2 separate regions of the Homo sapiens genome follow, and region 1 is linked to region 2. The links come from fine-mapping of genetic effects on gene expression. A gene starts in region 2. The other region holds a variant in brackets. All regions are shown on one strand. Distances are from middle to middle. Region 1 holds the start of EGILA (EGFR interacting lncRNA). Region 2 holds the start of RNASE1 (ribonuclease A family member 1, pancreatic).

The links. PIP is the estimated chance that this variant, and not a neighbour inherited with it, causes the effect.
Region 1: its variant is fine-mapped to the expression of RNASE1 in whole blood (INTERVAL, PIP 0.94).

What each region holds. Positions count from the first base shown.
Region 1 is chr14:20,702,756-20,718,578 of GRCh38, reverse strand. It overlaps EGILA (EGFR interacting lncRNA), which reads left to right and starts at 11,638. Exons shown (of 4, transcript NR_174964.1): 1 at 11,638-11,832. It overlaps LOC124903282 (a long non-coding RNA gene), which reads left to right and starts at 2,856. Exons shown (of 2, transcript XR_007064061.1): 1 at 2,856-5,498; 2 at 6,861-8,786. The variant A/G (reference allele first, on the strand shown) is at 7,725.
Region 2 is chr14:20,794,983-20,806,996 of GRCh38, reverse strand. It overlaps RNASE1 (ribonuclease A family member 1, pancreatic), which reads left to right and starts at 4,153. Exons shown (of 2, transcript NM_002933.5): 1 at 4,153-4,200; 2 at 4,904-5,769. The coding sequence starts at 4,929. The coding sequence ends at 5,399. LOC107984671 (a long non-coding RNA gene) reads left to right here and starts at 6,468. Exons shown (of 3, transcript XR_001750624.2): 1 at 6,468-7,093. The region is part of intron 3 of LOC105370397 (a long non-coding RNA gene); the gene reads right to left.

The DNA.
Region 1 (15,823 bases), 90 kb after region 2:
TCAAGTCCTCATCAAAAACTAGAAGGAGGAAAAGCTGGAACTGGCCTGGGAAGGACCTTATCTAGTGCTCCTAACTACTGAAAGCGCAGTCCAGACAGCAGAAAAAGGATGGACCTATCACACCCAAGTCAAGAAAGTGCCGCCCCCTCCAGAGTCGTGGGCCATAGTCCCAGGGGAAAACCCTACCAAACTAAAGCTAAGAAATTTTTTTTTTTTTTGAGACAGAGTCTTGCTCTGTTGCCCAGGCTGGAGTGCAGTGGTGCGATCTTCACTCACTGCAACCTCCACCTCCCGGGTTCGAGCAATTCTCCCGCCTCAGCCTTCCGAGTAGCTGGGATTACAGGCGTGTACCACTACGCCTGTATAATTTTTGTACTTTTAGTAGAGATGGGGTTTCACCATGTTGGCCAGGCTGGTCTTGAACTCCTGACCTCAAACGATCCACCTGTCTCGACCTCCCAAAGTGCTGGGATTACAGGCGTGAGCCAAGCTAAGAAAAATTTAACTCTCTTATTACTCCTTCTTCTTTCCTCATTCTATTGCTGACCACCTCATTATTAATGTAACAAAGTCAATTTCACCTCAAACTATTACATTTGATGCTTGCCTTGTTATACCTTGTGGAGACTTGTCAAGTTAAAGACAGCTCTCCAATTCAGAAAAGTACCTCTGTCCTTCCCGGCTCTCCTCAGACTGGACATTAGTGAATGGGGATCATTTAGTCTGGAGAGATTTCAATAAAGACCCCAGTATCAGCTGGGAGTCTTGCTCCTGCAAGACAGAGCTTTTATGCCACAGTTGGTCCAACATTCTGTGGACCACTAAAGAGCAAGGATGAGCTGCCCCAACCAGTGGTTGTAATTTCCTAAAGTCATATATTCACTTTACTAAAGGAACAGCTTCACCTAGCTGTCAGCTGAACCGTGCAATCCAATACAGGTTATTATCTCAAACCCTCAAAGCTCTTCCCCTTCTCTAAGCCGGTTCCCTTCTTTAAGCCGGTTTTATGGTGTGGGGGCTGAGGTTTCAGGAACAGACCCTATCAGATCCTTTGAAACACAATTCATTGATCCTCTGCCGCCTACACCTTCCCTTAAGCCTTCTTCCAGAAGCTCTCACAACAAAACTGTTGTTCTCCTCCATCTAATGACAAGACCAAGGTAGTTATTATAGAAGTTAAAGACCTAAAACAAACTTTGGCAATTGAGACAGAATATCAAGATGCTAATGCCTGGTTGGAGTGGATCAAACATTCCATCCACACTTTAAACAAAAGCATTTGTTATGCTTGTGCGCACGGCAGACCAGAAGCCCAGATTGTCCCCTTTCCATTAGGATAGTCCTTTAGTCTACTAGGCATGGGCTGTATGGTTACTTTTTTCCAGGATTACACAGCCTGGGGTAAAAAGTCGTGTCAAGCTCTCTCTGCTATATCCTGAGGTTCAATACCCTGCAGGTCAGCCCCCAAGGTCCACTCAGCTTCTGTCCCCTGACGCTAAGTTCACTTCATATCTCTCACTACAGGGAGGAAACTTAGCATTCCTTGGAGACCTAAAAAGATGCAGTGAGCTTAAGACTTTCCAAGAGCTTACCAATCAGTCAGCCCTTGTTCATCCCCAAGCATATGTATGGTGGTATTGTGGTGGACCTTTACTGGACTCTCTGCCAAGTAACTGGAGCAGCACTTGTGCTCTAGTTTAATTGGCTATCCCTTCCACCCTAGCATTTCATCAACCAGAGAGAGGAAAAATACAACATCATAAAACAAGGGAAGCTCCTTATGGGTCTTTCAACTCCCACATTTATTTAGATGCAATTGGAGTCCCATGAGGAGTACCAGATAAATTTAAAGATCAAGATTAAATAGCTGCAGGATTTGAGTCAAGATTAAATAGCTGCAGGATTTTGTGGGTGACAATTAATAAAAACATAGATTGGATAAATTACGTCTATTATAATTAGCAGTGGTTTATTAATTACACCAGGGATGCTGTCAAAGGGATAGCAGAACAATTGGGGCCCACTAGCCAGATGGCCTGGGAAAACAGAATGGCCCTAGATGTGATATTAGCTGAAAAAGGCAGTGTTGGTGTTATGATTAAAACTCAGGGCTGTACCTTTATCCCAAGCAACACTGCCCCCACTGGGAGCATAACAAGGGTCTTACAAGGACTTACTGCTTTATCCAATGAATTAGTTAAAGATTCTGGAGTCAATAACCCTTTCTCAGGATGGCTAGAAAGGTGGTTCAGTAGATGGAAAAGATCATAGCCTCGATTCTTACTTCTCTTGCAGCCGTAATAGGTGTACTCATTCTTGTTGGGTATTGTGTCATACCATGCGTCCGTGGGGCAGTGCAAAGAAACAGCACCTACTAAAACCTCCCTTAACTTTCCTCCACCTTATTCAGAAAAGCTTTCTTCTTTTAGAGGATCAAGTCAAGCAGCAAAGCCAAGACATGTTAAAAAGGTTTGAAGAGGAAGGCCTATGAAAATTGAAAGGGGGGAGATTGTAGGATACAGTAAATTCCTCTTCAGAGTTAGCCTGTTAACTTCCTTTAAAATTCAAGATGGTGGCTGGGCGTGGTGGCTCATGCCTGTAATCCCAGCACTTTGGGAGGCCAAGGCAGGCAGAACATGAGGTCAGGAGATTGAGACCATCCTGGCTAACATGGTGAAACCCTGTCTCTACTAAAAAATACAAAAAAATCAGCCGGGCGTGGTGGCGGGTGCCTGTAATCCCAGCTACTCAGGAGGCTGAGGCAGGAGAATGGCGTGAACCCAGGAGGCGGAGCTTGCAGTGAGCCTAGATTGCACCACTGCACTCCAGCCTGGGTGACAGAGCAAGACTCCATCTCAAAAAAAAAAAAAAATTCAAGAGGGAGAAAAAAATCATTTAAGTACAATGAGTTCTGAGTTCCTCTTCAAAGAACAAATACGTCAGTATGTTCAGCTTCCCTGTTCTTTGTTCTCCATTTTGAAGTTTAACTTCCTTGTTCTTTACACCTCCTTGCCTCTAGTTTCAGTAAACAACCCCCTCCTAGCCTCTATCACCTGTTCTGTCCTTAGGCATCCTTACTCTCCTGTTCTGTAACTGTCCTTCCCTGATGAAACTACTCACCCCACCACTCCAGCTCATACACTCACTCTCTTTAAAATTTCCAACTGGAATTAGCTTAGACTGTGTGGTCCAACCCTAGCCAACAGGGGAAAGACACAGCAGTAGGGACTAGCTGCATTAGGAATAAGACGCCCTTCTCCTCCCTTGTCTGGTGTGCTCTCACCATTGCTCCATCTGAGAGATGCACCCTTCTATAGAAGTAAATTGCTTTGCTGAGAAAATTTTTGCCTGAGTGCTATTTTCACTCTGTGGCACCGAGCACTTACTTCCAACAGTTTGGTTACATTTTTTATCACCCAGCATGGGGCTATATGTCTCTACTGGTCTAGCGTGCCTGGTTTCCGATGGATGGAGCAATTGGCTGTGGCATCATGCCAGGGCTTACTCATTCATGCTACCAGGCAGAGCAACAACTTCTCATGAGGATTAGCTGCTCGTGGCTAGCTGACCTCCCAGCTGGGATTCTAGGGTTGTCCCAGCAGCTGCCAAGAACATCTTTTCCCTCCTTCCCCCTCTGTGGCATCAGCTGCCTGCAATGCTTTATTAGTATAAGGAAAATGATAGTTGAGGAAGTTGACAGGATTCAAGACTGGGTAAATCAAACCAGTTTGCATGCTAGAAATCCTCTGTCTCTGCCATTTGGGCTTTATGCCATTTGGACCTGACACAGGTCTTTTGCAGTATCAGTTAGCCTAAGATTTATTAACTTCCCAGTCTCCTTCTACAGGAATTGGTTCAGGAGTACTCTGTGTTGATCTGTGTGTTTGTGTTCTTTTGATCTCTCCCCTGAGAATGGGCAACTTGACTTCCATTCCATCTAAGTGGCCATTGGGCTGTATATTGGCTTATTGGAAAGCTTATAGCTATGAACTCATAACAAAAAAGATAATGATTTTTTTTCATTGTAACACTGTTTGGCCTATGTATGTGTTGGAATCTGAAAAATGGTGGCTACTGAACAGTGATTTACATTAGTACACCTTATTACAGTTGGCGTTATTTTGCCTAAGATCTGGGAAATGAAATGAGATTCCATGTGTTTAAGCATTTATTACATAACAAAGACTCAGCACATGAGGGGTCTATGTGAATGACGTAGAGAAAAGGGAAAAAGAGATTTCTCTTTCCAGATAGTAAGACCCAAAAGGAAGAGGATATTGATGATATGGGCCTCATAAATATCTTAAATTTCCCCTCCCATGTGGTACTGGGGGCACCAGCCCTCCCAGGATTACCAAATGTAGCCCAGGACCCGGAGAGGCCAAGGTGTCAGCTCCTCTCCCCAGGATGGGGAAGGAATAGAAATGGCTGCTCCACTTGCAGATTTTACTTGGGACCCCAACAATGGAGGAATGGCCCTGTCCAGTCATTATAAAAAGCATGTGTTGGCAGGGTTAAAGAGAAGAATGTAAAAGAGCTTAAATAAAGCCAGGGCAGTTCTCCCAAAGGCAGATGAGAACCCCTGTGAATTTCTGGAGTGCATTTACCAGGTTTACCACAAGTGTATGGACTATGATCCAGAAGCTCCTGAGAATATGAGAATGGTAAACGTGACTTTCATCCAATATTAAACGAAAACTGCAGAAACTGGAGGGGGTATTTGGAATAAACCTTTCCCAACTGCTGGACATTGCCTTCAGAGTATATAATGCCAGGAAGGCCAAAAAGCTAAAGCAAGCCATGATATACTTGGAATTAGTGGAAAGAATGTATATCCGAAAAGGAAAAACCAGGCACAGGGAGGTGGCCAGAACAAAACTCTAGGTAATGATCAGTCTGCCCCCTGCAAGGAGGAAGGTCATTGGAAATCTGAGTGCCCCAAATTAAAGAAAAGACAGGGAAACCAGAAGAAGGGAGACACAGTGACAGAGAAGAAACATACTGGCTGATGGTAAAGCAGGACTGTAGCTCAGATAGTGAAGGAGGCCCAAATCTTTTGGAGCAGGTTGTAATTTCCCCACAGGAACCTCAGGTACGATTGACAATGGGGAACAAATTGATTGACTTTTTAATCAATACTGGTGTGACTTATTCAGGTAGAAACACTAAAGAAACTGAAAGTACTAGGAAAACAGTGCCTGTGATGGTTGTCGCTGGCAAGATGCAGCAAACAGCCTTTCTCCAGACCCTGGAGAGTCTGGAGACTGCCGGACACAGAGATCTGGAGCTGAGACACAGTTTCCTCTATATGCTGGAATACCAAATTCCTTTGCTGGAGTGAGATTTGCTTTGTAAACTAAATTGCCATGTGACGTTTTTCTCCAGAAAAACAACAACTTCATCTGCAGGTCCTGCCAGAGCAAGCTTTGCAGCTGCAGATGCTGCTCACACACCCCGAGGAAGAAAAAGAATGCCTCCTGCCAGCAATCTGTGAGCAAGTAAGTAGTCATGAGGGCAGATGGGACCACAGGTAGTGCTGAAAATACACAGCCTGTGTGCACAGAAATAAATGAAGGGGCTAAGGTATTCCCCAAACACAGTGCCCTCTAAAAAGAGAGGCTTTAGAGGGGATACAACCTATATTACAGAAGTTTCTAAAAAATGGACAAATATGTCCTTACAGATCTCCATACAATGCCCCTATCCTGACTGTTAAAAACCCACACTCAAATGAATATTGATTTGTACAAGATTTGGGAACCATTAATGACATTGTTCAAGACATTCACCCAACTATGCCCATCCTTTACACCTTACTAACTGATAAACCAGGGCAGTATGGGTAGTTTTCGGTATTAGACTTAAAAGATACTTTTTTTTTTTTTTTTTTTTTTGCATCCTGATTGAAGAGAGGGACCAGATGCTGTTCACCTTTGAGTGGCAAGACCTGGAAACAAAAAACACCTTCCAATATTGTTAGGCTGTATTTTCTTAAGGTTTTAAAAACTCACCCACCATCTTTGGCAAAATATTGGCAAAGGGCTTCAGAGATTTTCAACTAGATGATGGGGTTCTGCTAAAATACTTGGATGACTTGTTAATCGCAAGCCAAGACTATGAGAGGTGCCTATCTAACACTATCTTAATCTTAAATTATTTGATATAATACGGACGTAACATATCACCTCAGAAAACTCAGATTTGTAAACAAGAAGTGACCTATCTTGGCTTCTGACTAAAAACAAGGAAAGCAGAGCTTGATGTCCAACCAGAAACAGGTGATAGCAGCAATAAAGGCCCCTGGGAATGGAAGACACTGTGGGGGGTTTTAGGTGTGGCAGGTTTCTGCTGAATCTGAATCCCTAATTTTGGACTCATAGTCAAACCTCTCTACAAGGCTCTAAAGGGATTAGATTCAGGAGCCCTAAACTGGATGGCTGAATGCCTTCAGGCATTTGATACCATCAAAAAAAAAAAAAAAAATAGTGTCAGCTCCAGCATTAGGACTGCCCAATTCTTGAAAGCTATTTAGACTCTATATCCATGAAAACCAGGGCACAGGACAGGAAATACTAATTCAACTACGTGGGAATTCCCCACAACCCATAGCCTACTTTCCCAAACAACTGGAGCAGATTACCAGAGGATGGCCACCTTGTCTTCAGGCCGTGGCAGCTACGTGTGATATCTTACAGGAAGCAGAAAAATTCACCCTAGGACAGCCCATTACTGCATTTGTGCCTTATCAAGTGTTAACCTTATTGTAACAAAAGGGAGGTTACTGGATGATAGCGGGGCATATGGGCAAATACCAAGCCAGCCTATTAGATAACAGAAATGTTTTCTCCAAACCACCACAGTCTTGAATCCTGCCACCTTGCTCCCAGCCACTGAGTCCAACTATGAACTGGAGCATAATTGTTTAGAAATTCTTGATGCAGTCTATTCCAGCAGACCAGATCTGTCAGATCATCTGATGGCCACTCCGGACTGGGAGCTATACACTGACTGAAGCAGTTTCACAGAAGGAGGACAACGCCAGGCCAGGTATGCTCCAGTGACCCTAGACAAAGTAGTAGAAGCCTATGTCCCCGCTGCTGGTACTTCAGCACAAAAAGCTGAATGGATTGCTCTCATCAGGGCCTTAAAACAGTCTCAAGAGAAATGGGTAAACATTTACACCTACTCCAAGTATGCCTTCTTGGTAGTGTATGCCCGTGGGGTCATTCAGAAAGAAAGGGGATTCTTAACCTCAAGAAATAAAGACATTAAACACCTGCTGGAAATTTTAGCTTTGTCAGAGGCAGTTGTTCTGCCAACTCAAGTTGCTATTATGCACTGCCAAGGCCACCAAAAGGATGACTCCCCAATAACCAAAGGGAATCAAGTGGCTGATAAAGCTGCAAAGCAGGCCACTCAAGAAACATATTTACTTGGGACCTTAATACTCCATTTAAACTTGTCAGAATTTAAACTCCACTACACTGAATGAAATGAAGAATGCACACATGAGTGGACATTGACCAACACAGACCCTTGTTCCTCATGGAAAGCTAACACTCATGGGATATTACTCTCTGAGGCCCTGGTATACCCAGTCCTGAAAGACCTGCATGAGGGGACACACTATGGCAGAGATGGACTGGCTCACCTGGTGTAGCCATATCTCAAAGGGCCACACCTTCAAAAGATCATTCAAAAGATTATACAAGCATGTTATCTAT[A/G]TACCCCAAATGATTCAAGAACTGCATGCAACTCTTCCCAGAGGAGGATACAATACAAAGGAATATGACCATTCGAGGACTGGCAGGTTGATTTCACCCAGATGCCAAAAACACTGGGATTTATAAGTACCTACTAGTGTTTGTAGACACATTTTCTGGAAAGGTTGAAGCTTACCCGAGCAAGAGATTGAAGCCTATCCGAACAAGTCTGAGAAAGCTGCAGAAGTAGCTAAGGCTCTGCTAAAAGAAATCATTCCTCGATTTGGACTTCCTTACTCCATACCAAGCAACAATAATCCTTCTTTAATTTCTGAGATCACACAAAGGATAAGCCAAGCATTACAGATCAAATGGAAATGACACTCTTGTTGGAGGCCACAATCAACTGGAAAGACTGAAAAGATGATCCACATGCTAAAAAACAAAAACAAAAACAAAAACAAAACAAAACAAACAAACAAAAAAACCAAAAAAAACCCCTGGCAAAACTCTATCGGGAAACAGATTTAAAATGGTAAAGGGTTTTACCTATTGCCCTGCTATGGATTGGGGTAGCACCCTGAAGTGGGCTTAAATTAAGCCTTTTTGAAATTGTGTGTGGGAGACCCTTCTGAAGTTCTTGGCCAGGGACCCCACCCTTGGACTTAATAAATTAATCAAGAATTAAACAATATGTACAACAACTAAGACATAAATCACTAACCCTGCACAAGTTTGTTCTTTTTGTTCTTTCCAGTTTTATGTGTCTTACAAAAAAGCCCCTTCACCCTTTTCATCCAAGGATAAAGTGCCGCTAAAATCTTGGTAAAAACAAGGACTGGACCAACAACAGCCAGCCAAAAAGTGGACAGGTCATTATGATGTTTTATTAACTACTCATTCATCTGTTAAGCTGGCTGGAGTCAAACCACGCATACATCACATTTCGGTAAAAATCGCCCCTCCCCAACCTGACACAGCAGACAATCAACCTGGTTGGACTTGTGAGCCAACTGGAGAACTGAAGCTACTGCTTAAGAAAAATCTTTTTGTACTATAGGATTAAATTTCTGTTATTCTTTATCATAATGAGTAAACTTTTTTGACATCTGCTAAAACTAGTCTATTTCTACAGTGGGCATAACATTATGCAGATAGTCTACACTAAGATGCTTGCTGGGTATGTGGATTGCTACCCATCTCTAGCACTTCTGGGCTACTTTAGTGAGTATCACCCCTGCAGGGGACTGATTAGATACATTTACAAACGTATATGAAAAACTGTTCATGGGAAAATCAGGACCTTGGTAACTTAAGGTAATATTTTTTAAAAATGGCCTGGCATTAATATAACGCTTCAGAATCCAGATCCTGGAAAACTCTTCATTATAACCGGACTATCCAAAGGACCTCTGAGTATGCAATCCCTCTCTTAAAGGAGTTTTCCTAGATGGCCCCCAAGATTTTGGCTACTAATAACCATTACACGGTAGGTGAGTTTTTATCAAATTTGGGACGATTACCTCTGGATGATCTCCACTATTAGTCACTTAACCCAAATTGCCACTTCATGTTGGGAACAAAGGAATCACTCTTAGAATCATTGGCCGAATGTTACTAAAAATGTGGATAGGATGCCTCTACATCAATATGAACATTCTTTAGTGCTATATTAGACAAACCTGTTTACCACTGATTGGACACAGACCCAAAATTTGGTGGCTGGTCCCCAGTGGAACTCAATAGTTATGTGAAACTAATCTTCGGCCATGTCTACCTGATGGATGGATAGGGCAGTGCACGTTAGGACCCCCATAGGTCCGGGGCTGATTAACAAAAACCACCAGGCAGCCTGCACACTTTCCAGATGTGTTACACCAATGGACCAGGCCGGTTTTCCCTTCCTACGACCATCTCCTGTCCCTTGTTTTCCCCCAAGCAGGCTTAGAAAGCATCATCTGGCATATTGAGGCACTTACAAATTATAGCAAGTGCTGAAAGACACATTTAAGGGCATCTCATTAGTAACCTCTGAAATGACTATGATGGGAAAAGTAGTCTTGCAAAACCACATGGCCCTTGATGTACTCACAGCTGCTGGGAGGGACCTTGACCCATAATTGAAACTAAATGTTTTGTGTATATCCTAGGTAATTTGCGAAACATCTCCTTAGCCCTTCAAGACGTGCACAGACAAATCAATGCTATGTCTGACCCCACAATGTTCCTAAACCAGTGGTTATCTTCATGGTTTGGATACGGACCTACTTGGTGGAAAAAACTGCTAGTAGTTCCAGCTATGATTATAGGAATAGGTATATTCTCTATGGGTTATACTCTTGTTGCACCATATGTGTGATATTGCAAGATTGTGTTTTCCTTAATTGGAAAGGCTCCTAACTCCCAGGTCAATGATGCTGTAAAAAATCACTTCCATAAGTCAAGGAATGCATGAATACTTCCAACTCCAGGTAAATAAATTCCATTCTTCAGCTCCCTAGTGATGCCCTCATTCAGCAGGAAGTAGCTAGAAAGAAATTGACACCTGATCTCCCATAGAAATGAAACAGGAATTGGCAGTGGGGAGTTTGTAGCTGGAATAATCAGCCTGCTTCAATAATGAATAGCCTCACCCTTTGATTTATTCAGTATCTAGCCGTATCCTTGCTTAAGAAACCCAGGGGCTAATCTTGAAATAAACCGGGCATGAATTTGAGATTGTGGAATCCTACATTCTCAGAAAAATCACTGAGGGGGGTTAATCCATAAGCTAGTTGCAGTCATGGTGATGCCAGCCAGACCTCCAGGTGATCCGTTACTGAAGATAGCCATCAGAGTAAGACATGCAAACCTGCACCCTGCACCACTCCTGCTCATAGTTTCCATGCCTCCTACTTCTTAAAATCCCTTTAGCTAGCCTAAAATTTTGAAATAGTCTTTGAGGCGCTAGTCCACCATCTCCTCAGGTTGCTAGCTCTTGAATAAACCTGCTTTTCCTGCACCAACTCTTGTCTTGCAAGTCTTGCTTTTGAGCAGTGAGCAGTGATCAGCTGACCCTTAGTTTGGTTACACTATCACTCAGGAAATTCCAAGCATTTTAGAAGGTCTGTGGCAGGAACCAGGAACTAAGTTCAAATTTATTTTTTATTATACCACAGGTCCCAACTCCCATGACTACCTGGATGGTGACAAAGACGAATTATCTCTTCATCCTTCTTTCTCACTCTAAATATACACAGACATGCTATTAGGAGGGAAAACTTTCCCTCTACCAACTTTGGTTCAGTGGGTGGGAGCCTGTGAATTAACTATAGACAGGTTAGCAGGGGGAAAGAAAACAAGTTGTATTCATAACTTGTGGAAGCATTCAGATGAAGAGGCTTGATGAAGAGCTAGAGACAGAAGTTTAGTTATCAACTCATAGGGGAAAAGAAGGAGGGAGAAATGACTTCTATAGGAAAACAAATGACTTTTGGGAAAGACAAATAGAAGCTTTGGATAAAGTTTTACACAATTTTCTTGGAATATCTCCTGTCTGGGTGAAGTAATCCTCACACGGTTAACAAGAATCCTGGACAAAAATATAATTATGAGTAAGTGTTAATCAGGCTACACTTTGACCCACTTCCTTGTAACCAAAACTCACGAACACTAGCTACTGATAATTTGCATTCTCATTGTTCCCATAGATAAGATCTTTGACATTAGAATCATAAGGCTTTTGTTTAAGAATTGTTTATGCAGATCCTGAATTCCGGCAGAACAGCTGACACCACCAACTTTAAAGAGCCCAACTGATGAACTGATCAGCATGAGAATACTGTTTTTTCATCTCTCTGTCCCATGACTTCACTCTGCATTCTTCAACCAATTAGTGATCTCTTATTTCCACCTACTCCAAATCCTTAAAAACAACAGCCTCAAACTCTTTGAGGAAATGGATTTGAGGTTTCCTTCCATCTTTTGGTTCAGCAGCCCTGCAATTAAACCTCTTTCTCTGCTGCAACCCAGTGTCTTGGCATATTGACATGCTGTGCACATCAGGCAAAAGACCTATTACCATTACATGAGGACCCCTCCGGAGGGAGATAATGGTGGGGGCATTTCTGGGAGGCTCTGCTTTAGTCAGGTGAGAGAAGTTCAGGTAAGATTTCTTTCTGTATCTGCTGTAATTCAAATGTTTTCAGTTTTGTCAGTTTTGCCCTTAAACATGTGCACACACACACACACACACACACACACACACACTCACACTTCCCTTCTTAAGCAGCTAGCATCTTCATATATCTCTGCTCCTGTCATGTGCGTCCATGTGAAGAGACCACCAAACAGGCTTTGTGTGAGCTATAAAGCTTTTTAATCACCTGGGTGCAGGCAGACTGAGTCCGAAAAAGGAGTCAGCAAAGGGAGATGGGGTGGGGCAGTTTTATAAGATTTGGGTAGGTAGTGGAAAATTACAGTCAAAGTGGGTTATTCTCTTGCAGGCAGGGGCAGGGGTTACAAGGTGCTCAGTGGGGAGGTTCTGAGACTCATTGTCTAGGAGAAGGAATGTCACAAGGTTAATTGATCAGTTAAGGTGGGGCAGGAACAAATCACAATGGTGGAATGTCATCAGTTAAGGCAGGAACTGGCTATTTTCACTTCTTTTGTGGTTCTTCAGTTGCTTCAGGCCATCTGGATGTATACTTGCAGGCTTGGGCTCAGAGGTCTGACATTTCCTGTCTTCTTATATTAATAAGAAAAACAAAACAAAATAGTGGTGAGGTGTTGGAGCGGCAAAAATTTTGGGGGGTGGTATGGAGAGATAATGGGCAATGTTTCTCAGGGCTGCTTCAAGTGGGATTAGGGGCAGCATGGGAACCTAGGGTGGGAGAGATTAAACTGAAGAAAGATTTGGGCATCAAGGGTGATATTGTGGGGTTGTTAGAAGGAGCATTTGTCATACAGAATGATTGATGATGGCCTGAATGCAGTTTTGTATGAATTGAGAAACTGATCAGAAGACACAAGGTCTAAATAAGAGAAGGAGAAAAGCATGTATTAAAGGACTAAAAATTGGGAGGGCTCAGGACATCCAATTAGAGAGTGCCTAAGGGGGTTCAGCATAATTATTTGCTTGGTTGGTGAGTTTTTGGGCGCTATCCTTGAGTTTTTTTTATGTTGTCATATACTAGGCCAGAGTGATTTTGGTAGAAACAACACTCTTCATTTAAAAATATACAGAGTCCCCCTTTTTCAGCAGTGAGTAAGTCAAGGGCATATTCCTGTCTTCTTATATTAATAATAAGAAAAACAAAACAAAATAGTAGTGAAGTGTTGGTGTCATGAGGGGAACAGGAAGCTCTTGGGTCCCATTTGCAAGTTGATTTTTGGGGGTAAGGAAAACTAGTGTGCATGTGCCTGTCTAATTAACAGGTAGACACATGTAGGGGAGGAGCCACAGGGGAAGAAGAGACCTTGTGTAAGGCGAAACTGGAAATGTAAAGTGAAAAGATGAGAAAGAGAAAAACTGGCCATGAGGGACAGAAGTTGAAACGCCAGCTGCTTGTTTAGCTACCTTATTAGCATAAGCATTGCCCTGAGTGATGGGATCTGATGCCTTTTGTTGGCCTTTACAGTGAATGGCCTCAGTTTTCTTGGAAGTAGAGCAGCTTTAAGAAGAGGTTTTATTAAGGAGGCATTAATGATGGAGGACCCTTGTGTAGTGAGGAAACTTCTTTCTGCCCATATAACAGCATGGTGGTGAAGGATGTGGAAGGCATACCTGGAATTGGTATAGATATTGACACGTAGTTCCTTTGCAAGAATGAGGGCTCGAGTTAAGGCAATGATTTCAGCTTGTTGAGAGGTAGCAGAAGGGGGCAGGCCTGTAGCCTCAATGATAGATGTGGAAGATACTATAGCATAGCCTGCCTTTGCCAGTGATTGGCGATTGGACCTGGAAGAACTACCATCAATAAACCAAGTGTGGTCTGGGTAGGGAACAGGAAAGAGGAAAATATGGGGAAAAGGGGAGAATGCCACGTGGATTAGAGGGATACAGTCATGGGGCTCAGATGCAGTATCAGGAATAAGATGAGAGGCTGGATTGAAGTCTGGACTAGGAACAATGGTAATTGTGGGAGACTCAACAAATAGTGAGTACAGTTGAAGGAGCTGGGGCACAGAAAGTATACGTGTCAAGCGTGAGGAGGAGAATAGATTTGGAAAGTTACAGGAACAGTAGAGAGTAAGTGGAGCATAGCTTGTAATTTTGAGGGCTTCCAGAAGTATTAAAGCTGTGGCTGCTGCTGCATGCACACATGAGGGCCACCCCAGAATTGGGAGGTCAAGTTGTTTTGATAGAAAGGCAGCAGGTCACGGGCCTGGCTCCTGTGTGAGGACTCTGGCAGCACAGCCTTGTATTTCAGCTGTGTGTAAGGAAAAAGAATGGGACGAGTCGGGGAGTGCTAGTGTGGAAGCGGTCTCCAGGGCGTTTTTGAGAGAGTGAAAAGAAGAATGGGGAAAAGACTTAGGGTCCATGGGATCAGTTAAGTTGCCCTTTCTGAGCTTGTAAAGTGGTTTCGTCAGGATAGCGACGCCTGATATCCAGAATCGGAAATATCCAACAGTGCCTAAGAAGGAAAGGAGTTGTTGTTTGGTGGTGGGGACTGGGGTTTGAGAGATCAGCTGGACACAATCAGCAAGGAGAGCACGTGTGTTTTCATGAAGAATTATGCTGAGATAGGTAACAGATGAGGAAGAAATTTGGGCTTTGGAGGGGGATACATGATATCCTTTTGAGAACAGATATTGGAGGAACAGGAGGGTGTCCCGTTGAGAAGATTTGTAGGAGGGGCTATAAAGTAGAAGGTCATCAAAATATTGAATAAGGTGAGAAGCAGATGGACAGAAAGAAAGTAGATCATGAGAAAGGGCTTGACTGAAGTAATGGGGGCTGTCCCTGAAGCCTTGTGGCAGTACAGCCCAGGTAAGTTGCTGAGGCTGATGGGTGTCAGGATCAGTCCAGGTAAAAGCAAAGAGAGGCTGGGATGACAGGTGCAGGGGAATAGTGAAAAAAGCATCTTTAAGATCAAGAACAGAATAGTGAGCTGTGGAGGAATTTATTGAGGACAAAAGGGTGTACGGGTTGGGCACCACAGAGTGGATAGGCAAAACAATTTGGTTGATAAGGTGCAGATCCTGAACTAACCTGTAAGGCTTGTCCAGTTTTTGGACAAGTAAAATGGGAGAATTGTAAGGAGAGCTTGTAGGCTTTAAAAGGCCATGCTGTAACAGGCAAGTGATAACAGGCTTTAGTCCCCTCAAAGCCTGTTGTGGGATGGCATACTGGCATTGAGAGGAGTAAGGGTGATTAGGTTTTAAAGGGATGGTAAGGGGTGCATGATCGGTCACCAAGGAAGGAGCACAGGTATCCTATACTTGTGGATTAAGGTAGGGAGACAGAAGAGGAGTATGTGAACTGGGGAAAAGGGTGGGAATAGGTGTGACTGTAGCCCAGGAATAGTCAGGGAAGCAGATAATTTAGTTAAAATGTCTCAACCTAATAAGGGAGGTGGGCAGGTGGGGATAACTAAAAAGGAGTGCATAAAAAATGTTGTCCAAGTTGGCACCAGAGTTGGGGAGTTTTAAAAGCCTGGCCATCAATATGCACAACAGTTATGGAGGCAAGAGAAACAGGCCCTTGAAAAGAAGGTAATGTGGAGTGGGTGGCCTCCATATTGATCAAGAAGGGGATGGACTTACCCTCCACTGTAAGAGTTACCGAAAGCATCTGTGATGGTCCAGGAGGCTTCTGAGATAATTGAGCCACGTCAGTCTTCAGCCACTAAGCCAAGAAGATCTGGGAAGGAGTCAGTCAGAGAGCCTTGGGCCAGAATTCCAGGGGCTCTGGGAGTGGCTGCTGGGCGAGTTGGACAGTCCGGTTTCCAGTGGGGTCCCGCACAGATGGGACATGGCTTAGGAGGAATCCCGGGCTGCAGGCATTCCTTGGCCCAGTGGCCAGATTTCTAGCACTTGAAGCAAGATCCTGGGGGAGGAGGTCCTGGAGGAACACCTGGCCACTGCAGTTCAGGCATTTTGAAGTTCTTGTGTGCTGGAGATGTGGCTGGGGCTTCTCT
Region 2 (12,014 bases):
CTTTTTATATGGACCTCTACCTATATAATAGCCACTTCTCTAGGAAGTGGGGGTGCATCTGAAAGTTCCTTAACTTGCTGTCCATTTCTAATGCCTATTTTCTTTTCTTTTCTTTTCTTTTTGAGACGGAGTTTTTGCTCTTGTTGCCCAGGCTGGAGTACAATGGCACGATCTCGGCTCACCGCAACCTCTGCCTCCTGGGTTCAAGCGATTCTCCTGCCTCAGCCTTCCTGAGTGGCTGGGATTACAGGCATGTGCCACCATGCCCGGCTAATTTTGTATGTTTAATAGAGACAGGGTTTCTCCATGCTGGTCAGGTTGGTCTCGAACTCCCAACCTCAGGTGATCCACCCGCCTCAGCCTCCCAAAGTGCTGGGATTACAGGTACGAGCCACCATGCCTGGTCTTCTAATGCCTATTTTCAAAGCATCTCAAAATCATATGCTATTTCAAAAGCATACCTGCAGTCTGTATATATGTTTGCTCTCTGGTCTTTGTTTAGGTGACAAATTCTAGTAAATGCAATACATTTTGCTATCTGGGCTGATTTTACTGCAGGTAGTAGACTTTTTCTTAAGAAGAGTTTAAAATAGGGGTAGCATAGCCTATTAATAATGTAGGGAACCAGAATATGCCAGCTCAATAATTTTGAGTTGATTATTTTGAAAAACAGTAAATGCAGGAAAAACTCAAAAAACAGGGCTCATCATTTCCACAGCTGCCTCTCCCCTCTTCCTTCCCTGCTGTGAAAGAACTATAAATGTCCTTTTTTTTTTTTTAAACAGTGTCTCTCTCTGTCACCCAGGCTGGAGTACAGTGGTACAATCACGACTCACTGCAGCCTCCATCTCCAGTGTTCTTCCACCTCATCCCCCTGAGTAGCTGAGACTACAGGAGCATGCCACCATGCATGGCTAGTTTTGTATATTTTGTAGAAAAAGGGTTTCGCCACCTTGCCCAGGCTGGTCTCAAACTCCTAAACTCAAGCAATCTGCCTGCCTTGGCCTCCCACAGGGCTGGGATTACAGGAGTGAGCCACTATGCCTAGCCAAGTTTCCCTTTTGTAAGAGAAATTTCCATTTATATTCCCATTTGTATGGATGTCTCCCTTTCCTGTGCCAGGAAGAGGAGGACTTAATCACGGAGGACTTATCAATGGAGAAGACAACCAACTTGAATTTGCTTAACAAACTTTACTAAACAACCCTTATATACTATACATTTCCTAGTCCGCTTGTCGCAACCTCCCCAGAAGCTCAAAATCCCTTTCCTATGTGCAGAGACAAAAGTGACTCCATCTTGAATGCTAATCTACCATGTTGACGTCTGATTAACCATGTCCCGGGAATGCCTCCTGATTTCTACTTTATTTACTGTCTCTAGTGTAGAAACATGTATTCACTATAAATCCTGCCTTTAGATCAAAACAACCTTAACGTTATCATGCAAATTATGGGCTATGACAAACACAGCATTCTTGCCTGTTCTGAAGAGTTGCCTTTCATTGTCTCTATATAGCACGTACCCCTTTTCCCTATGGTATATAAGCTCTGGGTCTGGGGAATAACAGTGCTGAGATTTACATGTCTTGCTGCTGCCCAAGACGACACTTCTGGCTATAAGTTCCCCAATAGAATAAAACACGCTTTACTGACAAACTGAATTTGTCTGCCTTTCTTTAGTTTCTAGGCTCCTTCAGCATTTGGGGCCACTTCACATATGTGGCCCTTTCATGGAACACTGTCTTGTCACTTCTGCACAATTTTCTTTGTCAAAATGGCCTATAAACTCTCAGGTTTAATTGCTTCTTTGAGTCTTCACTTCTTTTTTTATGAAGACTTCCATATTCATGTAGAATATTAATATTAAATTAAATTTTTATGCCTTTTCTCCTGTTAAATCTGTCTTTTGTCATTTTAATTTACAGGGCCCCCAGCCCTCTAGGAGGGTAAAGGAAGAATTGATTTTTCTTTCCTCAGTGTACTAACTTCAAGTTTCAATTCTGGGGTATGTTCCATCAATAAATCATATTAGGTCCGGGTTCTCAATAGGAGTTGCTAATAAATCTGACTGACATGCAGAATGTTTCCTACTGAGGTAAGACAATCAAGAGGCTCCCCTTCTGGTAGGGACAGAGGGTGGCAGAATTCAGTGTGTTGCAGAGATGAGTAGTAATTTATGAGAGGGAGAGAGGGATAGAATCTTATAAGAGGTTAATCGGCTGCCTGAAGTGTGCAGTGAGTTCTCAGTCAGGTGTAATGCCTGTGCTGCGTGAGAAACCAGGAGGTCAAGCAGGGAGTCTAGAACAAGTTCAGCAGAAGCAACAACAAATGTTGCCATGGCATCTACTGCCCTAAGACAAGCGGGGCTATGCCTCTGCAACTGGGTCAAGGATAAGGCTGCAGTAAGGGCTTCTGATGGTTCCCCATTGAAGTGCAATTAAAGCTCCAAGGGCTTGTCTAGATTGCTATGCATAAATAGACAAAATGGCTTCCTGTAGTTTCAGGATTCCTAGGGCCAGGGGCTGTTGAAGAGCCTTATTATAGTTACAGAAGATCTGTTCACATCTGAACTGTGGTTCTGAAATCATCTTGCTGGGTGGAGGCCACTTTTGTGCAGCCACGCCCAGTGCCTTAGTGGGGTCCACCTGACTAACCAAACCATCCCACCAGGCGCCCTTCAGGTGAGTCCTGTGCCTTATTTATGTCTGTATCCCACAGTCTAATGAATGAATGAACACATTCTAACTTGACTATTCAAGAGAATAAAAGTATTATTAAAGACTCAGAAAAATAAAATACAGGTGGGGGCTGGGGGAGTAAGGAAACTGTAGGGGCCAAGGAAAAATTCCCCTTTCACCCTCCAAAGGTTTGCTGAAAATCAACTGACAAAAGACAGATTGATAGGAAAAAACGCATACAAATTGATTTGATCGTAGTTTTACACGACACGGGAGCCTTCAGAAGACCCAAAGATAACAGGGGAAAGTGGGCATTCTTACACTTGGATATCAACAAAGTATGAACAGCTGTGTAGAAATATGACTGGACAACAGGGCGATCTAATGAAAATAGACTGAGTGGGGAAACCCAGCAAGGCCTCCCTGTCTAGATTCTTCTTGGCCTCTCTGAGCATTCGTCCTTTTTTTCTGGGTATGGGGGGCAGGACCCTCTCTGGAATGAGGATCTTACGACCTACAATCACACAAGGTAGGTCAGATAATTTCACTATGGCCACTTTTTACACAGAAAGGCTGAAACAATCTGAATACACAGCACGAAGGGATATTTTGATAATTCTTAGAGGTATCCAAATTGTTACTCAGCAAAAAAACAGGTCTCTTTCTAGGAGGGCATTCTGCTGCTAATAAATATGATATTCTTTGTATTTTTTCCCCAAAAAGAATTTGAGATTTGGGATTTAAGTTTATCTTTAGTTCCTCTACTCAATTCCGACCTACAGGGTCAGTGGTTACTGTAGATAAGAACAGCCCCATCCTCTCGATGCCCCCAGAGCAGGGGTGGAGGGTGGGTGGGAAGTGGCCAGAACTGGGTGAGCGCACCCTAGAGGCCTCCTCCTCCTCCCTATTCAGTTACTCCCCCTTTCTTCTCCAGATCTGGGAAGCCTTCCAGCTGGGGGCAGCAGGACAGCCTCCATTCCCCCCGACCCCGCCTCCCATCCCCGGGAGAGGTAGCGTTGGGAGAATGCCCTCCTAGAAAGAGACTTGGGTTTTGCTCCCTAGGAGCCCTGGAATAGCTTTGGCCAGAATTCCCTATCTCCCATTAGAACCTCTCCTTTGCGTCCTTTGTTAACCTCCAAGTCTACTTGGTGAAAACGCCCACGAAGAAGTAACAAGGACTTTGTTCCTAGTGTGCCAGGTTTGGGCACCAGTGCTGTAGTGGCTTTCTCTGCTGCTCCTTGTGCATCAGCAGACAGATGTGGTTCACATAGGAAGAAAGACTAACGTAGGCAAAGATTTGCTCTTTCTTCAGCAGCCCTAGAAAGACGGCGGCCTGGGTGATTCACCACTCCTTCCTCACGTCCTTGATTTTATTTGAACTGAGCTCCAGATGCTCCTCCCACCCTTTTCCTCTTGGAAGCCAAACCCCTTTGTAATCTGTATAAGGTCCACACCCCGGGAGCTGAGTGATTGCAGAAACTGGCCTTCCATCTCTCTCAGACACCAAGCTGCAGATCCAGGTAAGCAGCCCAAGAGGTGTTCTCAGGTGCCGCTTCTGCTTCAGGGTTGCAGAAGAGGGAGCTAGGGCCAGTCCACAGCACTGAGAAAGATTGGGTGATGCTAGCGCTGAAAAAATGTGGCCCAGGCAAACATCAGCTGGGGGCAGAGGGGTCAGGGTGGAACGTGCAGGCTGCAGAGCATCCATGGGACTGGAGAAGAAGGAGCCTCCAAATTGGGGGAGGCCAGCGTTTCTCTCTGGAATACAATGGAATCTTTTATGATGCCAGTGTCAGGCACTGGCCTGAGTTCCCTTATGCTCCAAGACAACAAGGCTCTGTCACCCATGGCCCTGGATGTCGGGGATACAATTTGGTTCATGATTTATTCAAACTGATGTTTCGATGAGCCATTTGAGCACTGGGTACAAATGTATTTTGGATCAAAGAAACTCCAGTATTCAAAGATAGGAACTGACAGGATTTTAGGTCACTTTGTAGGTCACCACCTAGAGGGGAGGAAGACCTCGCTTTGGAGAGTGGGAATAAAACGCTCGTGGAAAAGGGTACACGTGAGTGTCTCATTACACGAAAAACCTCAGGAAGTAGGATGGACGTCTTTCTGGCTGACCTGAAACAGAAAGTGTAAACCAGGCAAGCCATAGGTGGGAGCTGGAGTTCTTTTTCTAAGAGGGCTCTTTTCCTTCTCTCTCCTTTTCTCAATTAGGCTTTTCTGGGAAAGTGAGGCCACCATGGCTCTGGAGAAGTCTCTTGTCCGGCTCCTTCTGCTTGTCCTGATACTGCTGGTGCTGGGCTGGGTCCAGCCTTCCCTGGGCAAGGAATCCCGGGCCAAGAAATTCCAGCGGCAGCATATGGACTCAGACAGTTCCCCCAGCAGCAGCTCCACCTACTGTAACCAAATGATGAGGCGCCGGAATATGACACAGGGGCGGTGCAAACCAGTGAACACCTTTGTGCACGAGCCCCTGGTAGATGTCCAGAATGTCTGTTTCCAGGAAAAGGTCACCTGCAAGAACGGGCAGGGCAACTGCTACAAGAGCAACTCCAGCATGCACATCACAGACTGCCGCCTGACAAACGGCTCCAGGTACCCCAACTGTGCATACCGGACCAGCCCGAAGGAGAGACACATCATTGTGGCCTGTGAAGGGAGCCCATATGTGCCAGTCCACTTTGATGCTTCTGTGGAGGACTCTACCTAAGGTCAGAGCAGCGAGATACCCCACCTCCCTCAACCTCATCCTCTCCACAGCTGCCTCTTCCCTCTTCCTTCCCTGCTGTGAAAGAAGTAACTACAGTTAGGGCTCCTATTCAACACACACATGCTTCCCTTTCCTGAGTCCCATCCCTGCGTGATTTTGGGGGTGAAGAGTGGGTTGTGAGGTGGGCCCCATGTTAACCCCTCCACTCTTTCTTTCAATAAAACGCAGTTGCAAACACCTGATTTCTGAAGCGGTTCTGTCTAGGTACTGTTTCTGGCATTGCCTTCCAGCAAGGGGTAAGAACTGTAAATCTGATTCACTTTGGAGAACGGTGAATGGAGTAATTAAATGCCTTCCCTTCTGACTTGGATTTTAGTGGCTTGAGAAAATTCCTTTCCTTGTAGATTCCCTGATGCCAAACATAAAACTGTTAAGTGTGGGCTGTTTTAGACAAAAGGGAGCTACAGCCTGGGACACTGCCATGCAGGGTGAACTGACAGAGGGGTGAAGCTCAAATACAATCATTCTCTGGCACAGAAGGAAGGCAAGTGTGACCTCAGGAAGATCCTGCTTAGCCTCAGGGTGGGGAAGAGGACTCAATGAAATTATGATCCTAAATTTCCATTTTCCTTTTTTTTTTTTGAGTGAGCTATTACTAAATCAGAAAAATGGGCACCTCTTAGTTGGAAAGCCAGAACCTTACATTTTAGAGCCAGAAGTGACTTTGGAGAGCACGGAATTGAGGGATAGCAAGTAGATTTCAGTTTGTGTACCAACTCTAATTGGAAGTGCCGGTCGGGCGTGGTGGCTCACACCTATAATTCCAGCACTTTGGGAGGTTGAGGCAGGTGGATCACCTGAGGTCAGGAGTTCAAGACCAGCCTGACCAGTATGGTGAAACCCCCTCTCTACTAAAAATACAAAAAGTAGTGGGGCGTGGTGGCAGGTGCCTGTAATCCAGCTACTAGGGAGGCTGAGGCAGGAGAATCACTTGAACCTGGGAGGCGGAGGTTGCAGTGAGCTGAGATGGTGCCACTTCACTCCAGCCTGGGCAATAAGAGTGAAACTCTGTTTCAAAAAAAAAAAAAAGGAAGTGCCTACCCAAAATGCTGTAGCAAAAAATTCTGGACAGTGGTGTGGTTGAACAACAGCCTCTATCGAAGGCACGAGAGGGGGAAGGGTGTGTGTGCCACACATTTGCCATCCCTGACCAAATGTGACCCCTGCCTTTCCGGTGACTTGCACATGGCTTGTTGCTAGTTAGTGGCACAGCCGGGACTACACCCTAGGTTTCCTGACTTCCAAGCCATTGTTCTAACTCAGGAAGCCATTGCTCTAACTCAGGAAGAAAGCTCCCCTCCTCAGTAAGTGCTGTGGAGCGGTAGCTCTCTCCCAGAGCTTGCTGGTGGGCTCTCACAGGCTCCCAGTGTTCTTAGCCTGTGAGTCCACTCCACTCTTGGCAACCCTTCCTGACAGCCACTGAAAGACTACCTTTGGCATCTGTCAACACTTAACCTGGGAGGCAGAGGTTGCAGTGAGCCGACATCGCGCCACTGCATTCCAGCCTGAGTGACAGAGCAAGATTCCATCTCACAGGGTGGGGGGTGGGGAAGCTTGCCATATAAAGAATACTTTCTGCAGGGCCTGTGCGGAGATCCACTGTCTTGTGGCTGCCTGAGACATGGCTTCTATTTGTAAGTCCCTATTAAATGTTTCTTTCTGAGAAACTGAACTTGTCATGAAGTGGGATTTAAGGAACCAGAGAGACCAGATGGCGTGCAGGAGGGTGTTTATTTTAAGGTGTACACTGGCCCAGCGGACTTGTGTCCTAAAAGGCTGAGCCCAAGAACAAAGAAAATGAGTCCCTTTTAAGCATTTTGAGGCAGGAACTAAGTGAAGCAGGCTTACAGAAGTGAGAACAAAAGGCCGCTGTGACACTTTTGGAACATGTCTTACATCTCTGTGAGAACTTGGTTTGCAGCTTATGCTTATCTGTCTTGTGACCTTGCAGCTGTGCAGGGAAGAAAGAAACAGGAGTTTACAGAGCCTACAAAATATGTGGAGGATAGATATGGTTAACGTTTCTTGGGACAGACAGTTAATATTCTCTTCTAACTTTAACTTCAGGGGGGCTACTTAAATTCTTTTCAGCCTTGGTTAATACAGCAATTCATTCTATGAGCTATTGTTATTTCTCTTATTATTATTACGTATGCTATTATTTGTTATTTTCTTAGTTTCCTACTTCAGTCAAGCCCTTTCTTTGGCCTCTCATCTCCCTCAGCCCTTGGGGGTACATTGGCATAGACCTGCTCACTGCAGAACAAGGAAGGAGGAAGCAGGAGAAACCAAACCTGCCATACCGTGTTCTTGAACTTCTGGCCTCCAGTGAGAAAATGAATTTCTGGCTGGGCATGCTGCCTCACGCCTGTAACCCCAGCACTTTGGGAGGCTGAGGCAGGAGGATTGCTTGAGCTCAGGAGTTCAAGAGCAGCCTGGGCAACATAGTGAGACCCCCGTCTCTACAAAAAAATATTAAAAAATTAGCCAGGCAAGGTTGCAAACACCTATAGTCCCAGCTACTCGGGAGGCTGAGATGGAGGATCACTTGAGCCTTGGGGGTCGAGGCTGCGCTCCAGCCTGGGCAACAATGAGACCCTGTCTCAAAATTTTAAAAAATAAATAAATAAATAAATGCATTTCTATCGTTTGAGCCGCCCATTTTGTTATGGCAGCCCTAGGAAATGAATACACCCTTTAACCAATTCTTCCACTTCTCTTGGATTGCATCCGTAGCTGCCCTGACACATCCCTATGGCGGGCTGGTCTAAATTAGATGCCACGGTGGTGGGGATGGGGTGGCTGTGGGGTGAATAGAAGTGTCTGTGGGGACAAATGAACATCTACTTCTTCCTGGGACAGCTGGATGGAGTGGAGGGACTTTAGAAACCGTTAACAGGTCTTAGGGAACTGGCCCTGCGTCCCTTCTGAGGCTGCTGTAAGGGGAAAAGAAAAAGTAGGGGCATGAAAGCCCTTGGCAAGATGTGAAGCGAGGCAGCCTTCGTGCATGCTTGGTCAGTTGTGTACCTCCAGCTAGTTAGTGTGCAACAGCCCTCACGCTTCCTCTGCAACTTCTCCCCTGCCATCAGCTGAGCTTTCATGTTCTCAGTTCATGTTCTCGGTTCATGAGTGTTCATGTTCTCAGTTACTCTTGGAATATGGTTCAATTCAGAAATTCCCAATGCACTATTAATGAACATAGAGAGACGGATATACTATTCTACCAAAAAAAAAATCTGCCCTTTTAAAATCCAGGGAATGTCTGGACATACACATTCTTAAGTCAAAGGAACATTTTTCTAGCATTTGTGAAAGAAGGAGTGAATGAATGGAGGTTGGAAGGAGTGCAGTAGTTACAAAGATTGGCTTATTTTTTATGGGTCTAGCCTGGATTTTAAAAACCTGAGACAGGATAACAACTCCAAGTGCCTGTGGGACTTCTGTAAAATGGAAATATTCATAACACTTAATTAGAAGTACTGTGGTAAAGATGACATTCAGAGAAAGCGTAGTGTTCAGCGTTCTGTGGACACTCAGAAAGTTAGCCACTATCACCGAGGCATGGGGTATGGTGTTTCAGAGCCTTGGCTCTGGAGTGAAACAGACCTGTTTCACACTCCACTGTGCCTTTTGGGAGTAGTGTGGCCGCAGGCAGGGAACGTAACTTTTTTAACATCAGGTTCCCTATGTAAAATATCATGATAAACATGGTATCAACTTCAGAGATTTGTTGAGGATTAGTTGAGGTCACATATAAAAAATATTTAGGACAATGTCTGTCCATAATAAAAGCTATTACTCTTAGAATCAAGAATCATACATCCTATTCTATCACTTGCATGCAACCAATCAAGACTGGGGACAGAATTGACAATGTCTCACTACAGTTTTCTGTATTTATAATTCAAGGTGCCAACATATGATTTTTGTTTGTTTGAGGGCCTCAGATGAAAGAGGGGCCAGGAACATTAGTACTGGAACTCACAGGAGTATGAATTCTATCATCCCAAGAGAGGGGATAACCAGAGATCTAGAAAGCACAGAAGATCAGGCAGAGACAGTAGAAAGGCCTAAACTTGATTTCAAGAACCGACTCTCAAAAGAGTGAGTATAAAACCAGTGTATACACCAAGTACAGTCATGTGTTGCTGAATGATGGGGATACAATGTGTCATTGAGTGACTTCATCATTGTTGGGAACCTTACAGACTATATTACCTAAAACTAGGCAGTATAGCTTGCTCTACATCTAGGCTATATGGTATAACCTATTGCTCCTAGGTTACAAACCTGTTCAGCAGTTTACTGTACTGAATACTATAGGCAATTGTAACACAATGGTAAATATTTGTGTACATAAACATAGATAAGTTACAGTAAAAATATGGTATAAAAGGTAAGAAATGGTACACCTCTGTAAGACACTTATGTGTGGAGCTTATAGAATTAGAAGCTACGGCCAGGTGCAGTGGCTCACGCCTGTAATCCCAGCACTTTGGGAGGCCGAGGCGGGTGGATCATGAGGTCAGGAGTTCGAAACCAGCCTGGACAACATGGCAAAACCCCGTCTCTACTAAAAATACAAAAATTAGCCAGGCATGGTGGCATGTGCCTGTAATCCCAGCTACTCAGGAGGCTGGGGCAGGAGAATCACTTGAACCTGGGAGGCAGAGGTTGCAGTGAGCCGAGATCGTGCCACTGCACTCCAGCCTGGGTGACAGAGCAAGATTCGGTCTCAAAAAAAAAAAAAAAAATTAAAAGTTGCTCTGGGTGAGTCAGTGGGTGAGTGGTGAGTGATTGTGCAGGCCTAGGACATTGCTGTGCACTACTGTAGACTTTATAAACACTGTATCATTAGGGCACACTGAACTTATGAAAAAATTTTCTTTCTTCAATAATAAATTAACCTTAGCTTACTTTAACTTTTAAACTTTATACATTTTTAAATAAAAAAAATTTTGACTCTTTTATAATAACACGTAGCTTAAAACACATTATACAGCTGTACAAAAATGTTTTCTTTGTATCCTTATTCTATAGCTTTTTTCTTCTTCTTCTTTTTTTTTTTTTTGAGACAGGATCTCGCTCTCTTGCCCAGGCTGGAGAGCAGTGGCACAATCTTGGCTCACGGCAACCTCTGCCTCCCCACCTCAGCCTCCTGAGTAGCTGGAACTACAGGCATGTGTCACCATGCCAGCTAAGTTTTGTATATTTTGTAGAGACAGGGTCTCACCATGTTGCTCAGGCTTATCTGTTTTTTTTTTCTATTTAAAAAAATTTTTAAACTTTTTTGTTAAAACTAAGATACAGGCTGGGTATGGTGGCTCACACCTGTAATCCCAGCACTTTGGGAGGCCGAGGCAGGTGGATCACCTGAGGTCAGGAGCTTGAGACCAGCCTGACCAACATGGCAAAACCCCGTCTTTATTAAAAATACAAAAATTAGCTGGGCGTGGTGGCACATGCCTGTAATCTCAGTTACTTGGGAGGCTGAGGCAGGAGAATTGCTTGAACCCAGGAGGCAGAGGTTGCAGTGAGCTGAGATTGCGCCATTGCCACTATATATATATGTATATATATATTATATATATACACATATATGTATGTATGTGTGTATGTGTGTATATGTGTGTGTATATATATACACACACATATATAAATTATATATATTATATTATATATATTATATTATATATGTGTGTGTATATATACACACGTGTATATATATACACACGTGAGTATATATACACGTGCGTATATATACACATGAAATGTAACATAACATTTTCTTTTTTTTTTTTGAGTTGCTCTGTCTCTCAGGCTGGGGTGCAGTGGCATGATGTTGGCTCACTGTAACCTCCACCTCCTGGATTCAAGAGATTCTCCTGCCTCAGCCTCCTGAGTAGCTGGGACTACAGGCACACACCACTATGCCCAGCTAATTTTTGTGGTTTTAGTAGAGATGGAGTTTCACCAAGTTGGCCAGGCTGGTCTCAAACTCCTGACCTCAGGTGATCCACCCGCCTTAGCCTCCCAAAATGCTGGGATTATAGGTGCGAAGTACTGCGCCCAGCCTAACATAACATTTTCTAAGTAACATTTGGGTCAAAGAAGAAATCAAAAGAAAAAAATTAAAATATATACAATATATAAAAAATTGGGTGATGATAAGAAAGTACAATTAAGAGAAAGTTTTGTGAAAGTTGTCAGAATCAAAACGGAGTCACTAATGTTAAAGAAACCCTGACAAGCCTGGGTGCAGTGGCTCACGCCTGTAATCTAAACACTTTGGGTGGCCAAGGTGGGCGGATCACTTGAGGCCAGGAGTTCCACACCAGCCTAGACAAAATGGTGAAACCCCGTCTCTACTAAAAAAAAAAAAAAAAAAAAAAAAAATTAGCTGGGTTTGGTGGCACAGCTGTAATCCCAGCCACTTGGGAAGCTGAGGCACAAGAATCACTTAAACCCAGGAGGCAGAGATTGCAGTGAGTCAAGATTGCACAGCTGCACTCCAGCCCGGGTGACAGAGTGAGACTCTATCTCAGAAAAACAAAC